Linked DNA regions of Homo sapiens. The protein of the gene in region 2 purifies or fractionates together with the protein of the main gene of each other region. This does not show direct contact. Each region holds a gene or a part of one and is shown on either strand. Other genes may lie near its edges.

The links. The genes of interacting proteins can lie anywhere in the genome.
Region 1: the proteins of MSRA (region 2) and TRIM26 purify together in Homo sapiens (affinity purification with mass spectrometry; one large-scale study listed by BioGRID and IntAct). This does not show direct contact.

The regions. Positions count from the first base shown.
Region 1 is NC_000006.12:30,183,717-30,186,890, reverse strand, and holds the end of TRIM26 (tripartite motif-containing protein 26), read left to right. Parts: intron 1-332; coding exon 333-1,015; 3' UTR 1,016-2,436; downstream 2,437-3,174.
Region 2 is NC_000008.11:10,421,292-10,424,791, forward strand, and holds part of MSRA (mitochondrial peptide methionine sulfoxide reductase isoform a precursor), read left to right. Parts: intron 1-3,500. UniProt on the Homo sapiens protein: Has an important function as a repair enzyme for proteins that have been inactivated by oxidation. Catalyzes the reversible oxidation-reduction of methionine sulfoxide in proteins to methionine.

The DNA of each region.
Region 1 (3,174 bases), on a different chromosome or scaffold from region 2:
GGATGATATTAATGATGAGTTGGACCCAGAGATCCAGAGATAGAGGAAGCTTATGAAAAGTTTTGTTTGGAATCAGAGCGTAAGCGAAAACAGTCAAGTTAAATTTCAGTATATCATGTTTATAAAGCAGTTTAGTTATGGTGATTTAGCAGAATACAAAGCCAGAAAATGTGTCACACTTATACCAAATTAAGGATGTTGAGTTATATTACTAATGTATGCAACTTTAATTTTGTTTAACGCTATCTGCCAAAATAAATTTTATTCCCTCTGACTTAAAAAACAAAACAAAACAGTGATGCTGTTTTTTTTTTTTTCCCTTGTCCCCACAGTGAGCGTCACCCTGGACCCACAGTCGGCCAGTGGGTACCTGCAGCTGTCAGAGGACTGGAAGTGCGTGACCTACACCAGCCTGTACAAGAGTGCCTACCTGCACCCCCAGCAGTTTGACTGTGAGCCTGGGGTGCTAGGCAGCAAGGGCTTCACCTGGGGCAAGGTCTACTGGGAAGTGGAAGTGGAGAGGGAGGGCTGGTCTGAGGATGAAGAAGAGGGGGATGAGGAGGAAGAGGGAGAAGAGGAGGAGGAGGAAGAGGAGGCCGGCTATGGGGATGGATATGACGACTGGGAAACGGACGAAGATGAGGAATCGTTGGGCGATGAAGAGGAAGAAGAGGAGGAGGAAGAGGAGGAAGTTCTGGAAAGCTGCATGGTGGGGGTGGCTAGAGACTCTGTGAAGAGGAAGGGAGACCTCTCCCTGCGGCCAGAGGATGGCGTGTGGGCGCTGCGCCTCTCCTCCTCCGGCATCTGGGCCAACACCAGCCCCGAGGCTGAGCTTTTCCCAGCACTGCGGCCCCGGAGAGTGGGCATCGCCCTGGATTATGAAGGGGGCACCGTGACTTTCACCAACGCAGAGTCACAGGAACTCATCTACACCTTCACTGCCACCTTCACCCGGCGCCTGGTCCCCTTCCTGTGGCTCAAGTGGCCAGGAACACGCCTCCTGCTAAGACCCTGAGCCCTGACATCTGCCCCCAGCCCCAACCCTCAGATGCTTCACTTCTTTGGAATTCCAGGACTCTCAATGGGGGGACGGGATGCCTGGCCTAAGCACCTGGAGCAGGGGACCCCATATCCACTGGTAGCCACCTCCCCATTGCTGTGGCCCCCTGAAATCTCACTCAGTGCTGTTGCTCCATCTACTGCCCTAATGGGGCTCTTTTCCCACCTCCTGCTGGTTTCCCGAGGGAACTTCTGACCCTGGAGTCCATGAGGGCTCCTTTCCTTTTTGACCACGACCTTGGCCCCAGCTCTGCACTCTCTGGAATAAGGGCCCGATGCAGCATTTTCTTGCCCAGTGTGGCAAGACCTCAGAAAAACCAGTCAATTACGCCTAAGATCATTTTGCTGTCCTTAAACCCCCCAGGTTCCTTCTTGCACAAATCCACTCTGCTGCCCACCTTCCCTGGCATTTTAAACAGACCTACCCCACCCCAACTCAGAGTTAAGCATACATGGCAATGCTGAAAATAAACAAAATCCACTGAGGCTTCCCAGGCCATTTAAAGCCTGGAGTACCAGCGCATATCATCTCATGGGGTCCAGAGTGGAGTCCAGGCTTCTCTGAAACCAGGGCTGAGCATATTTCCATAGCCAAGGAGGTGGGACTCCCTGGAGCTATCTGTGGTCTTAGGGAAGGATCCAGACATACACGGCTTTGGGGTACAAGCTGTGATCACTGATCAATAAATTATCTCTAGATTGGTCCTTGTGAGGGGAGTTTTAAGAATCCAGAACATCTTGCTCTTGATCAGCACATCCAAAAACACCAAGACAAACATCCAGTGGAGCAGAACCTCTCCTGCCTCGGGAGTTCTGACCGGGTTCCCCAGCAGGGTGTTAAGCCTCTGTCTCTGGCCCTACCAGCATCCAGGTTCCACTTTCCTAGGAGAGAGTGGAGATGGGAAGACAGGGAAAGGAAGGCAGCAGGAGGCCACAAGCCCACCAGGTCTTCATGTCAAGAGAGGGAGTAACATGTCTTCTCATTGCCCACGGACCCAACCTCTGTCCAGGTGCCCCTCATCATCACAGTTTAACACAAGCTCCCCTGCTCCAGCCAAATTGATCTCCCAGTCTTGTCCTTACCCATTCCAAGTGCTCTGCCAGCCCCTGTTCATCCAAGTTTTAAGTCCTCCACCCTGTTCTAAGAGACTGTTCCAACGGCTCTGGGCCTCAGTGGTCACTTGACCACCATTGTCTCAGAGCTGCCCACTTTGTGTGTGTCACATGCTGCCTGAGTCACATGTACATCTTATTTCTGCCTCTAGTTTTGTAAGCTCCTGGAGGGCGGATAACATCTTATACTACTCTTGTATTCTCATGGCACCTAGTGCAGTGCTGGGCACAGAGTAGGTGCTCAATAAAGACTTGTTGAATGAACAGCCTGGAGATCTGTATTTGTAGGTCTATATCTATATTATATCTCAAATGCCACCAGACCTCAGTCTGGCTACAGAGAAATTCCACTGATAGCAGTAGCCGAAGGTTTTCCTTCTGTGCCTTCTGTAACAGTGTAACTTTGCTTTCTGTTCTCTGCACACATGCTGTCATTTCTGGAAGTCCCTCAAAAAGAGCCTACTGCGGAACACAGACGAGTTGTTGCGTGGCTCCACCTTTTTATTCCTCCTGCAGTGGTGCCCTTGAGCTGAGGTCCAGCGTTTTGGAGCAAGTGATGACTCTCCCTGAGAAGGGAGACCTCCAGTATAGCACACCCAAAAATTCTTCCTTGGAAAATAAGCACTGCCTCAGAGGAAATAGAATGTGCAGAGATTCAGCCTTGCATCCTAACACAGTCAACTGTTTTTCTTGTCCTTTCTGATTTTTTTTTTTTTTTTTTTTTTTTTTTTTTTTTTTTTTTTTTTTTTTGAGATGGAGTCTCACTCTGTCTCCCAGTTTGGAGTGCAGTGGCGCCATCTCGGCTCACTGCAAGCTCTGCCTCCCGGGTTCACGCCATTCTCCTGCCTCAGCCTCCCGAGTAGCTGGAACTACAGGCGCCCGCCATCACGCCCGGCTAATTTTTTTGTATTTTTAGTAGAGACGGGGTTTCACCATGTTAGCCAGGTTGGTCTTGATCTCCTGACCTCATGATCCACCCACCTCGGCCTCCCAAAGTGCTGG
Region 2 (3,500 bases):
AAACAGGAATAAGAAGCCTACATTTTAGTCAATGGAAGGTTCACGTGAATAGAGGGTGGAAGCCCTTTGGAAACACTGTTGTTCTGGACAAACACAGGGTCCTGGTCTCCACTCTGGGCTCTGGGTCTCAATGCCTTTCTAACCTTGCCCACTGGTGCCCACTGCCACCTGTGCTGCCAGGAGCCATCCTGCATTTCCCAGGGTGGTATGAGAGCGTGTCACCTCCATGTAATAGGCTGAGACACTCGGGCACTTGGAGAATCTCGGTGATCCTAATCGTAAGCTTGTTAGCAGGCTGCAGTCAGCAGAATGATCACATGTTCATTACATTTATTACCAGAAAGGCTCTTTACTGGCCGCCCTAGAAGGACGGATGGGACCTGCTGTGCCCGGCTGGCACGCCTTCCATAAGGAGTGACCCGGCTGCTTTTCGTGCATCTGTGGTGTTCCTATGAGTCGCTGGAGCTGGAGACCGAGCTGAGGTGGATGAGGCCTAGGGGGCTGGGGGCTCCATCACAACTTACACATGCCTACCCGCCTTCCTGCCCCAGAGATCTGCTGCTCAGCCATAGAAATGGGGATTCCATGGGGGAATGTGGAAATGGGGGCTACTTAAGGAGGGCAGGATAGGCAGGCTAGCTTTCACCCCTGGGTGGGGATTTTTGGGAAATGGAGCCAGTACTCTGCAGTAGTTAAAACACGCCAGGCAGGCTGTGTCGTGGCTCACACCTGTAATCCCAGCACTTTGGGAGGCCAAGATGCGAGGATCGTTTGAGGCCAGGAATTTGAGACCAGCGTGGACAACATATAGGGAGACACTGTCTCTATAAAAAAATTAAAATTAGCCAGGTATGGTGGTGTACGCACTTGTAGGCCCTGCTTTTCTGGAGGGGCTGAGGTACAAGGATCGCTTGAGCCCAGAAGGTAGGGCCTGCCATCAACCATGGTTGCACCAGTGTACTCCAGCCTGGGTGGCAGAGCAAGACCCTGTCTCAGCAACAGAAAAGCCAGGCAGGGCATGGTGCACTTTCTGTGCCCTCTCTGCATTCCTCGTCCTAGCACAGTGAACTAGGTAAGGGGCCCATTTCACAGGCAGAAAAGCTGAGTCCAAGGAGAAAATGACAACAGAAGGAAGGCACAGGAGGCTTCCTGGGGTCATTGAGGAAGAGTCTGTGAGAAAAACACAAATGACCAATTCTGTTAGGTGACCTTCCAGAAATTCCCTGGGCCAGGTGTCGCCCCACATGTGTTACTGTATGCAGTCCTGCTGACTTCTTTCTAAAAGGTCAGCAAGACACACACACAAAAAAATGCCACAAGCAAAAGTCAAGATACTTGGAGTCAGTAAGAGAGAGAAAAGTTGCCGGGAGCTAGGCTCAGGTCATTCCTCCCCTGAAGTGGAACGTGGTAGGGGCATGTGAGACTGGCTGTCAGTACAGCCCTGGGGGTACCTGGCCCCACAGGCTGCAGTAGGGAGCTGGGCCGGGGCTACCCTATGCAGAGGCAGGCCCTGGGGTTGAGCAGCAAGAGCACCTCTTTCCAGGCTTTTGAACCAATCTAGGCAGTTACTTCAACCAGGCAAGTCCGTCATGACCTGAACTCATTCTCCATCCCCAAAAGTGGCCCCATAGGGCCTGGAGGATGAGCACAGTCCCCTGAGGGCACCTGGGTCTTGAGGCCGGAGCGCCACTGCCCTGCCTCCCTCTGTCCAGCACAGTGTTTCTGGTGACATCCCACTGTCACGGGTGCAGCCTCCTTATTGGAAGGCGCCTAAAGATTCAGTAGGTGATGTGGGCAGTTGTCTCGGCAGTCACGAATGGTCAGCCGTTTTTATGGGTCCTCCCCATGGACGACGGGAGAGGGGAGAGGCCACCAGGCTGCGCATTACCTGGGTCCCCACCCTCTTCCTCCTCTCCAGCTCTCCTGACAGTTCTCTCCTGCCTGCTCCTGAGGGCCAATGAGAGGCAGTAAAACCGAGATCCGGATCTAAGGCGTTCCATCTGCTCCAATTCGTTAAGGAAAAGTAGATGACCACAAGCATTGGTGTGTCAGCCATGATCAGTAACACGCTACCTAGGAACCCCTGCCCCATCACTGACTGGGACACCTGGTGTGTGTTGATAGTGCAGGAAGGGGGCTCAGGAGACTGGCATGCACCCATGCCGGCACCTGCATAGCTTGGCCCCGGTGCCAGGTTGACCAGTGGACTTGGGGTGGGGCGGGGAGGGGGGGTGGCAGCAGAGGAACCATCTGTAACCCAGAGGTGACAGTCTTCGTCCCCTATCTCCCCCTGCTCCTGCACCACCCCACTCTCCCTGCAGAAGAGCAAATGGGCTTTTTCAGGAGCCGTGGATGACAGAGAGGCATTCTTCTGTGCTCCCTGCAAGGACACAGCACCACAGGGCCACCATCTAAAGACTGAACCTGCCCATGGAACTGGCCAGGACTCTGTGACACGGAAAGTGGCTGCCTGAGTCCGTCGTCCCCTTCTCCCTCCCACCATTCCTTCCCAGGCCCTAGAGGAGGTGCTGGGTCTTGAGGTAGCAACAGGGACCCAGGTGGAATCCAGAAGCAGAGAGAATCTCCAGGAGATCCCAAGAATCCATAGTTCATTTTCTCATTCATTCATTCATTCATTCATTAATTGCACACAGTGCACAAAGCCCCGAGATGAGGGAGAGACACAGACAGTCCTGGGTAGTGGAAGTGGCTTGGAGAACAGAAGGGTTTTTGTAATGCAGCGTCATCAGCGCTGTCGGGCATTGCGATGCCACGCGAACATAGTATGTGGAGCAGCTTCTGCCTTCAAGAAGCGGGCAGGTTTCATAGAGGTGGGGACATTTGGTCTGGGTCCTCAGAGATGGATAGGAGTTCCTGCGATGGAAAAGAGGAAAGGACATTCCTTGGAGATCGTGTGCAAGGGAATGGAACATTCGGGAAACAGGTAAAAATGAACAACACCAAAGAAAATAGTGCGCAGAGGGGAAGGAAAGGCTGAAAAGGTAGAAGATGGTGAGGGAGACGATGCTGAGGGGTGAATCAGGGAGAAGGGCCTGGGGTGGAGCGGGAATGGGGAGAAGGCCCGGGGTGGAGTGGGATGGAGAGAAGGACCCGGAATGGAATAGGATCGGGGAGAAGGGCCTGGGGTGGAGCAGGAATGGGGAGAAGGCCCGGGGTGGAGTGGGACGGGAAGAAGGACTCGGGATGGAATAGGATCGGGGAGAAGGGCCTGGGGTGGAGTGGGATGGGGAGAAGGACTCGGGATAGAGTGGGATTCGGGAGAAGGGCCTGGGGTGGAGAGGGACAGGGAGAAGGGGCCAGGGTGGAGTGGGATCAGGGAGAAGGGTCTGCGGCGGAGCTAAACTGGACGGGGAGAAGGGCCCGGGGTGGGTTGGATCGGAGAGAAAGGCCTGGGGTGTTCTGATTCGGGGCCAGGGAGAGGCCCCCTCCTGGGTTAGGGGAGGTGCTGGGGCAGGCCCAGATCTCCCAGGCTCCCTGGT